Regions from separate parts of the Homo sapiens genome. Here region 1 is linked to region 2. Evidence: fine-mapped expression QTL. A gene starts in region 2. The other region holds a variant in brackets. All regions are shown on one strand. Distances are between the middles of the regions. Region 1 has its middle 20 kb from the start of ENTPD3. Region 2 holds the start of RPL14 (ribosomal protein L14).

Region 1 (5,238 bases), 90 kb after region 2:
GTTCATTCAATGCCTAGTTTTTATCATGAAGGGATACTTGATTTTATCAAAAGCTTTTTCTGTGTCTATTGAGATGATCATATGGTGATATGGTTTGGCTCTGTGTCCCCACTCAAATCATCTCGAATTTTAATCCCTACATGCACGAGGAGGGGCCTGGTGGGAGGTGATTGGATTATGGGGGCCGGTTTCCCTCATGCTGTTCTCATGATAGTGAGTGAGTTCTCACAAGATATGATGGTGTTAAAGTGTGGCACTTCTTCTCTTGCTTACTCTGTGTCTGCCGCTTCACCTTGGAAAGATGTGCCTTGCTTCCCCTTAGCCTTCTGCCATGATTGTAAGTTTCCTGAGGTCTCCCTAGCCATGCAGAACTGAGTCAATTAAACCTTTTTTCTTTATAAATTACCCAGTCTCAGGTAGTTCTGTACAGCAGTGTGAAACGGAACTAACATATATGCCTTTTGTTTTTAATTCTGTTTATGTCACATCTGTTGATTTGCATGTGTGGAGCCAAACTTGTATCCTAGGAGTGAAGCTTACTTGTTCATAGTGAATTAACTAACTTTTTGATATGCTGTTGAATTTGGTTTGCTAGTGTTTTGTTGTGGATTTTTGTGTCTATGTTCATCAGGGATATTGATCTGTAGTTTTTTTGTTTTTGTTTTTGTGTCTTTGCCCAGTTTTGATGTCAGGATGATGCTGGCTTCATAGTATGGGTTAGGGAGGAGTTCCTCCTTCTCAATTTTTTGAAATAATTTCAGTTGTATTGGTACCAGCTCTTCTTTGTATGTCTGTTAGAATTTGGCTGTGAATCCATTCGGTCTGGGGGTATTTTGTTTGATAGGTTTGTTTTAAATTACTGATTTGGTTTCAGAACTCAATATTGGTCTTTTCAGTGTTTCAGTTTCTTCCTGATTCAATCTTGGGAGATTGTATGTTTCCAGGAATTCATCCATGTCCTCTAGACTTCCTAGTTTCTTTGTGTAGAGATGTTCATAATAGTTTGTGAGGATCTTGTATGTTTCTGGGGAATCAATTGTAATGTTACCTTTGCTGTTTCTGATTGTGCTTATTTGAGCCTTTCCTTTTTTATGTAGCTAGTGTCTATCAATCTTGTTTATCCTTACAAAAAAACAACTCTTGGTTTTGTTGATTCTTAGTATAATTTTTTGGGTCTCAACTTTGTTCAGTTCAGCTCTGATTTTTGTTATTTCTTTTCTTCTCCTAGCTTTCGGGTTAATTTGTTCTTATTTTTCTAGTTCCTCTAGGTGTGATATTAGATTGTTAATTTGGGATCTTTCTAACTTTTTGAGGTAGGCATTTAGTGCTACAGGCTTTCCTCTTAACACTGCTTTTCCTGCGTCCCAGAGATTTTGATATGTTGTGTCTCTGTTTTCATTTATTTCAAGGATTTTTTAAAATTTCTGCCTTGATTTTGTTTACCCAAAAGTCATTTGGGAGCAGATTGTTTAATTTCCATGTAATTATGTGGTTTTGAGAAATCTTCTTGGTATTGATTTCTGTTTTTATTTCACTGTGGTCCAGTATGGTTGGTATGATTTTGATTTTTTTGAATTTATTAAAACTTGCTTTATGTCCAAGTGTGTGGTCAATCTTACGGTATGCTCCATGTGCAGATGAAAAGAATGTATATTCTGTGGTTGATGGGTGGGGTATTCTGTAGATATCCATTAGGTCCAATAAGTCAAGTGTTGAAATTAAGTCCAGAATTTCTTTGTTAGTTTTCTCCCTTGATGATCTGTCTAATGCTGTCAGTGAAGTGCTGAAGTCACTATTATTATGAAGTCACTATTATTATGTGCCTAAGTCTTTTCATAGATCTAGAAACACTTGTTTCATGAATCTAGCTACTCTAATGTGGGTGCATATATATTTAGTTAAGTCTTCTTGTTGAATTGAACCTTTTACCGTTATGTAATGCCCTTTTGTCCTTTTTTTTTTTTTTTTTACTGTTGTTGGTTTAAAGTCTGCTTTATCTGACATAAGAATAGCAACCCCCACTCTTTTTTGTTTTCTGTTTACATGGTAGATTTTTCTCCAACCTTTTACTTTGAGCCTATGGGTGTCATTATGTGTGAGATGAGTCTC[TTG/G]AAGATAGCAGATGGATAGGTCTTGTTTGTTTTTATCCAACTTGCCATTGTGTGCCTTTCAAGTAGGAGCAATTATGCCAGTTACATATTTCAAGGTTAATATCAATATATGGGTTTGATCCTATTGTGAAGTTGTTAGCTGGTTACTTTGTAGTTTTTATTGTGTGGTTGCTTTCTAGGGTCTGCAGGCTATATACTTATGTGTGTTCTCATGGTAGCAGGTGTTATTCTTTCGTTTCCACGTTTAGAACTCCCTTAAGGATCTCTTGGGCTGGTATAGTGGTAACAATCACTTGCCTTACCTTACCTTAGCATTTATTTGTCTGGAAAATTTTTTATTTCTCATCTGCTTATAAAGTTCAGTTTGGCAGGATATGAAATTCTTGGTTGGTGCCCGTTATTGAACACTGTATGAATGGGATTGCACAGTATGTGCTCTTGGTCTAGTGTAGATTCTTAGTCTAAGTTTACTGAGCATGTGCATGTTAGTGCAGGCTTGCATGCTGCTGAGTCTTGCTTGCACTTTTTGGTGACACATTGAATACAAAACCAGAAATAAACAGCCTGCACTGTGAATAGATGTGCTGAGTCATGAATGTTCTACAATCTCTAATTGCAAGGTTTCGGGTAAGGCAACATCTTGAGCCAGTTGGCTACATTTACATTTGTTTCACACACAAAAATTGGAAAGAAATGCCTTGGTAAACCTTGTTTGTTTAATAACTTCCATTCTTTAATCACATTAGATGCTCATTTGAAGGCAAAATAAATTCCATTAGGATAGCACTGGTTAGGTAGCTGCTTTATCCCATTTTTTCCAGCATGCAGGCTGTAGTGGGTATTGTAATCTCAAGCTTTTCAAGGAAGAAGGTTATCTCCTATTTCTCCTGTCTCTTTATGTACTCTTCTGCCTAGAAACACACCCAAAGGAAAATGAGAACTGCTCACTACTGGTCTCAAACTGGACAGAAGTTTTGCTTTTCCTCTTTCTTTTCTTTCCTCTTTCATTATTGTGACCATAAGTGTTGGTACAGGCAGAAAATATAAATGCTGCATGTTCCACAGGCTGTTTATCCTTCACATCTGAAAGGCAGTGTGATGAGGTGGCACAAGTTCAGGCATAGTCATTCACTAGTTGTGTGACTTGGGCAGGTGACTTACCCTTTCTGTGCCTCTATTTCCTCAGCTGTGGAATGAGGGTAGGAACAGTACCTACGTCATAGCATTGTTGTGAGGAGTAAATGAGCAACACATTTACATACTCATATAAAGCACCTAAAACAATGCCTGCATGTAATAACCTTTCAGTAAATATAATGCAAACTATTATAATTGTAGGAACAATGCTTAGGGCCTATGAGTTCTTCCTGCAAACATCTGAGACTTGAAAACATTTATTGACTTTAAAGTGTCAAAGGAAAACTTCAGAATGAAATAAACAAGTATTAAAATAAGCTTTATTGTGGAGATATTTACTACCTATGAATATTCCTGGGCTTTCCCACATTTTCCCGTCTCTTTGCCGTTAGGCAGGGCCTGTGGCTGGTTCTGGCCATTGGGTGTGACTGGAAGTGGCCTTTGTCACTTTTAGCATGAAACATTTAAAAGTCAATGCATGACTCTCCATCTTACTCCTTCCCAGTTGTGGAGACTGAAGAGGTCGTATGTACTCATTGGTGCAGCTACAAGACAGTGATGCCTTCTGAAGTCTGGGTTCCCAGTGACTACGTCTATGGAGCAGAGCCCTTCTAAACTATAATGAACATGTCGTGAGCCAGAAATAAACTTGTGTTATGTTAAGCTACTGGGATTTGGGGGACTGTTTGTTCCCTCAGTACAGTCTAGACTAACCTGACGTATTAACATAAGTGTCTACCTAACACAACATGCCAACCATTTAATTATACTCAACTCAATTCAACCTGACTCTTCCTTAGCTGGATATCAATTATATAGAATAAAGGCTTTACAAGGGTAAGGGTCTTAGTATTGTTCACTAATGTATGCCAAGTTCTTAGAACAGTGCCTGGGACAATATTATTTGTGATATGAGTGCATTTTAAAAGTTTTAATAATCTCAGCACTTTGGGAGGCCGAGGCGGGTGGATCACAAGGTCAGGAGATCGAGACCATCCTGGCTAACGCAGTGAAACCCTGTCTCTACTAAAAATACAAAAAAATTAGCCAGGCATGGTGGCGGGCTCCTGTAGTCCCAGCTACTGGGGAGGCTGAGGCAGGAGAATGGCGTGAACCCAGGAGGCAGAGCTTGCAGTGAGCCGAGATTGTGCGACTGCACTCCAGCCTGGGTGACAGAGCGAGACTCTGTCTCAAAAAAAAAAAAAAAAAGTTTTAATAAGACTCTGAGTGGGGCTTTCAAAAACCAGAATGTTGAAGATCTACAAAGGTCTTAAAATAGCTCAGATGGGTTTAGATACAGTCAGGACTGCTAGCTATGTTTCATGTTGATAAGAGAGAACTCCAATTTTTTAGGTCCATCCTATAGCCCAGCTGATGAAAAGAAGATAAAATTCAGAGATGGATGAAACACATTTCATCCTCAAGGCCTTTCTTGTGTTCTTTCATTTTTAAATTCCTCTGCTATTACTCTTTACGGAGAAGAGAACAGAGCAAAATGTATTCCTTTGAATAGTGTAATTTAAAAATTACTCCAGAGCAAAGTCAAAAGATGTGATATGTAGGCCGCTAGCCTACACTTCTAACTTAAGTTTTTAGTTTTAATTGTGAAGTATAATGTTGTTTTTAAATATAGAAATTTCAAGCTCTAGAACCATCACACTAAGATGACAATGGTAATTACACTGACAGCTGCAGATATTAGCATGAACTCAATACCAAAAATAAATCAGACCATGAATAATGGAAATAAAAGAAAACTGGCAGTTTTAAGAAATTCCAGAAATAGAGCAGAGAAAATGGAGGGAAGAAATTATCAAAGAAGTAGAATGAAAATTTCCAGAAGTGGAGAAAAGAAATGTCCAGATTAAAAGTGCTAAATAAAAACATGCCATTGTGAATTTTTAAAACAGTGATGATGGAGAGAAGAGAGAGAGAGAAAATTAGAGACAGGGAGAGGGCAGTGAGGAAGAGAAAGAGAAAGAGAAAAGGT
Region 2 (5,509 bases):
TCCGAGCCATTCATTCTCGTAACAAACAAGGTAATTAATATTAACTGTTAGGCTTTTTTTTAAAAAAAAATTTACAGTAACAATTTGTGGCCAAACATCCTAAAAATAAAATCCAGGGTGTCCAGGGATCCAAGGCAGAATTACAAGAGTACCTAGTGAAAAATCTAAGTTACCAAGTATTTTCTACTGCTTTGAACTTTGACAAGTATCCTCAAGCTTCACCCCTAATTGGTATGTCACAGTAGTAGCAGCATGGCTATGTTCACTCGAGGTTGTTCAAGTGGCATGTTTTCAACTACCAGTACTTCAAAATCCATTATGTGTTAATACACGTCCCACAGTGCCTGTAGTGCTCAGCATACAGTAAGTTTTTTTTTTTTTTTTTTTTTTGAAACGGAGTCTCGCTCTGTCACCCAGGCTGGAGTGCAGTGTTGCGATCTCGGCTCACTGCAAGCTCCGCCTCCCGGGCTCACGCCATTCTCCTGCCTCAGCCTCTGAAGTAGCTGGGACTACAGGTGTCCGCCACCATGCCCGGAATATTTTTTTTTTGTATTTTTAGTAGAGACGGGGTTTCACCGTGTTAGCCAGGACGGTCTCCATCTCCTGACCTCGTGATCCACCCGCCTCGGCCTTCCAAAGTGCTGGGATTATAGGCGTGAGCCACCGCGCCCGGCCAACATACAGCAAGTTTTTGACTATTTTTTAAAGCATGCAAAATTACATGTTCCACTGCAACCATCATTGTGGGTTGAATTAACTGTATAGCAACACACTAAAGTGTTTTAATTTTCATGTCAAAAAAGAACTGCTATTCACTGCCTCACTTAAATGTAAGCTAGGGATAAAACCTCTTATATTAAATACTGTGTAACTGACACACACTGAGAGCTTATCTAATGATAGCTAGTAGCAATAAACACAAGACTTAGTATTGTTGTTTACTTTAAGCTAAAAATTTGGCAGAAACCAGAAGAAAAGAAGATGGCAAATCTAAACAAAGGCAAAGCCCTAAACTACCAGGATAGAAAAGTGACCTCAAGGCATTTATTTTATTTATTTATTTTTGAGACAGGGTCTCACTCTGTCATCCAGGCTGGAGTGCAGTGGCATGATCACGGCTCTCTGCAGCCTCGACCTCGCTAAAACGATCCTCCCAACTCAGCACCCCCAAGGCCCCCCTACCTGGGATTACAGGCGCGTGCCACCATGCCCAACGAATTTTTTTTTTATTTTTTGTAGAGATGGGGGTTTTCGCCATGTTGCCCATGCTGGTCTTGAAACTTGGGCTCAAGAGACCCTCCCACCGTGGCCTCCCAAAGTACTGGGATTACAGGCATGAGCTATCACGCGCAGGCAAGACATTTTAAAAGTAAATAATCCCTGTCTACTTCTATGATGCAAATCCCTCTTCAGGATGGCTCTGAATCTTCCGTATTGTTTACTCCAAAACAAACTTTTACTAGCATAAACAAATCTGGGGATGGGAGGGAGGAGTGATTAGTGGACAGTTACCTGTGCGGAAACTTGAGGATGAAATCAGTGAGCTGCATGCACTTGAAAGGCATGGCCTGTCTCCTCACTTGAGTGCAAGGTCCATCGACCAAAGCCTAGAACACAAACATCAAGAACTTCAGTGCAAAATCTAACAGCAATTAAAATGGTCAGATGGTTCTGTAACATTACTTATCCGTTCAGGGCCATCAAACCCACACTACTATTTTAATAAATTGCTCAGAAAAGACAAGGATTGTCCTATCTGGGTTATATATATGTATGTCTTTTGCTCAACACAAACATTTCTCCACATCATTAAATGCTCCTTCTTAAACTATATAGTACCCCATAGAAACCAACCACATGTAATTTACAGGCAACTTTAGGACTCTGATCCCTGCTGATTTATAGTCAGTGGTCAACTCCTTAGTTTGCTTGTTTCAAATACACAGCAGTAAATACAAAAGTGCTTTCTACGTGCTGGATCTGTTCTAAACTCACTTTACGTATAGTAACTCATTTAAAACTAACCAACGTTTCAGCCTATAACTGGCTCTAGCTTAAGTGGCTAATACTGAAATTCAATACTAATAGCTAACTTCAGGCTGTGCTTAAAACCCGTACCATTACCTGTTTCCTCAATGGTAAAATAAAGCGACTACCCATAGCATCCTCATCTTACACAGCCATCGAGACAATTCATTATTGCCATCTGCAGGGCACATGTCCACTGCCATGTTTAGTAAAAAGTTGTGACACTTACCCTGTTCTGATCAATAACATCTACAATCGCGACCAATTTTCCGGCATGAGGTCCAAAGGAGACATAGGCCACCCGGCCAACCTCCACGAAGCGCCTGAACACCTAAAATTGGAGGAGAAAGGACAGTGAAACTTACTTAGAAATACTCGCTACATATGTCACCTTCTGCAGCTAAAGACAACATGGTTAAATTCAGCGAAAAAGAATGCTGCAGGGAACAAACGCCCGAGAGCCAGGCGCCAACCTGGATGGACGAAATCAGCAAACGCCTCAGTAGCTTAAGCCCGGTTCCCAACGCCCGCCAGCTCCCAGGTCCGCAAGGCCCACACGGCAGGACAAGGCTCTCGGACCACGAGCCGCATCAGCCATCCAGCTCCAGCGGCGGAGGCGCGCACGCGTGGCCCAAGGCGCGCCAGGCCTGCCGGGCCCTCCACGCGCTCGCCAGCGGCGAGTCCGGGAAGGGCGCGAGTCCGGGAAGGGCCCGATTCCGCTGCACAGCCGGCCCGGGGACCCTCACCATGCGCTTCCCGGGACCCTCTGGGAGCCGTTTGGCGCCTCAGCTTCCCAGCGGAGGTGGAGGTCGAGCGGCATGGTCGACGGCCCCGGAGCCCGCAACAGTAAGACTCACCATGTTGGCGGCGTTAGGCGAGAAGGAAGAAGACCCGCCCAACCCTGCGCATGTGTAGAAGAACGCACCGCCCCTGCGGTAACGAGTCACCGACGTGAGCACCGATTGGTTGGTGCGTGCGTGCGTGCGTGCGTACGCACGCGCTCGCAAGCTCACTGGGAAAACATGGCGGAGTCGGCTGGCGTTAAGTTGCTTTTTGGCAAAGTTGGGCGGCGAGATTGTTTTTGGTGATTTGGATTAGAAAGCTGCAGGAGGGTCATCGCTTAGTAATTTAGGGTTAAGAGTACAGAAGCTATGTCTTCCGTTGGTCGCATGCCATTTGAGTTCCTTTTTATTTCCTCGAGTTTTATTTGTTGGTTATTCATGGCTAGGTCTGTTCGCTCCTCACGTTCTCTCCTAATCTCAGTAACTTTGTTAACCTTTCATTTTCAAGTAATTCACAGTTACAGAAATATTGCTAAACTAGTACAAATAATTCCCACAAACCCTTCTAGATTCCACAAATGTTAACGTTTTGCATGTGCTATATCATTTGAAAGGAAATTGCCGACATGATGTCCTTCTATCGCTACATTTTTTTTTTTTTAAAGACGGAGTCTCGGTCTGTTGCCCAGGTTGGAGTGCAGTGGCGGGGGCTTGGCTCACCGCAACCTCCGCCTCCCGGGTTCAAGTGATTCTCCAGCCTCAGCCTCCCAAGTAGCCGGGACTACAGGCGCGCGCCACCATGGCCGGCTAATTTTTTTGCATTTTTAGTAGAGACAGGGTTTCACTATGTTGGCCAGGCTGGTCTCGAACTCCTGACCTCGTGATCTGCCTCCCTCAGCTTCCTAAAGTGCTGGGATTACAGGCGTGAGCCGCCGTGCCTGGCGTTACATTCTTTTATAGAGACAGGGTCTCCCTCAGTCGCTCAGGCTGGAGTGCAGTGGCGCGATCATGGTTCCCTGCAGCCTCTAACTTCTGAGTGAAGACGATCCTCTCGTCTCGGCCTTCCAAAGTGTTGGGATTACCGGCGTGAGCCACCATGCCCAGCCTATCTATACGTTCTTAAAATGTGTATTTCCTAACAACAGAGAGATTCTCTTATGTCATCAGTACACTTATCAAAATCAGGAAATTGATATTGCAATAGTACTATTATCTAACCTTCAGTCCTTATTCAAATTTATAAGTTGTTGCTCCTATGTTCCTTGGAGCAAATGGGAAAAAAAATTGTTTTTCCAGGCTCTTGATCTAATGGAGGATTACAAATTGCAATTATTTATCAGGTCTCTAGTCTTTAACTGATAGTTTTAGATTTAACTGTTAAATTTGTAACATGGGTTTGTTGGAGTTTTCCTCATTGGATTCAGATAGTGAATTTTTGGTAGAAATGCTATGTCCTTGGTGCATCACATCAGAATACATTCTCTCTCTCTTCACTCTCTCTCTCTCTATATATATACGCACACACAAACACTTTTTTTTTTCTTTCTTTTTTTGAGATGGACTCTCCCTCTGTCACCCAGGCTGGAGTGCAGTGGTGCGATCTCGGCTCACTGCCACCTCTGCCTCCCAGGTTCAAGCAGTTCTCTGCCTCCCGGGTTCAAGCAGTTCTCTGCCTCATCCTCCCAAGTACCTGGGATTACAGGTGCCTGCCACCACGCCCGGCTAATTTTTGTGTTTTAAGTAGAGACAGGGTTTCACCATTTTGGCCAGGCTAGTCTTGAACTCCTGACCTTGTGATTCACTTGCCTCAGCCTCCCAGAAGTGCTAGGATTACAAACGTGAGCCACTGTGCTTGGCCACACACATATACATTTTTTCGAAGAGATGGGGTCTGGCTGTGTTGCCCAGGCTGGAGTGCAGTAGCTATTCACAGGTCTGATTGTAGCCTGCTACAGCCTTGAACTCATGGGCTCAAGCAGTTCTGCTTCAGCCTCCAGAATAGTTGGGACTACAGGAATACACCACCACACATGGGTTCCCAATATTGTGGTGGTATTTTATTCTTTAGATTTTTACCCAGGCCAGTGCAGAGAGGTGTTACCTTTTATCACTTGATTAAGGTGATGATCTTTGCCATGACAGTTCCCAGATGTATTTCAAGCCTTTCCTCTAAGCTCTATGCCAGCATATCTTCCCTGAGACTGCTCTAGCAGCCTCCTAAATTCTGTCTTTAATCTGTTCTCTGCTCAGCAGTTAGAGGGATCTTTTAAGTAAGTAAATCAGATCACATTATTTCCTGTTTTTAACAGTTCGATTGCTTTTCATAATATTTGGAATAAAATCTCAACTTCTTACTCTGGCCTTGTATCATATGCTTTAATACCCAGATACACCTTATGCCATCCCTCCTTCATTGTGTTGAAGCCACACTGGTCTTGAATGGGCCAAGCTCTCTCCTCCTCCATGACCTTTATACATGGTGTCTCTCTTGCCAGGAATGGTCTACCCATTGTTAATACTCATCGTGTAGCAGTGCCAACTTATCTCTTGTATTTTTTCCTAGATATTTTTCTGAGAGTTAACCAGGCTACCACATAAAAAAAGGTTAAGTCCCCACCCTTCTTTTTCTAGCTCACCTTGTTTCCCTCAGAGTTATCACAATTGCAATTGTTTGACTTGTTTTGCTGCCCACGTAGGTG

What was found. PIP is the estimated chance that this variant, and not a neighbour inherited with it, causes the effect.
Region 1: its variant is the best candidate, but not a certain one, in a credible set for the expression of RPL14 in whole blood (TOPMed, PIP 0.57).

Annotation. Positions count from the first base shown.
Region 1 is chr3:40,364,461-40,369,698 of GRCh38, reverse strand. No RefSeq gene overlaps it. Among named protein-coding and RNA genes, the nearest start is that of ENTPD3, 20 kb to the left of the region's middle. The variant TTG/G (reference allele first, on the strand shown) is at 2,110.
Region 2 is chr3:40,454,740-40,460,248 of GRCh38, reverse strand. It overlaps RPL14 (ribosomal protein L14), which reads right to left and starts at 2,910. Exons shown (of 6, transcript NM_001034996.3): 1 at 2,775-2,910; 2 at 2,258-2,359; 3 at 1,513-1,607. The coding sequence starts at 2,777. RefSeq lists silencers at 1,117-1,411, 2,625-2,674 and an enhancer at 2,817-3,111.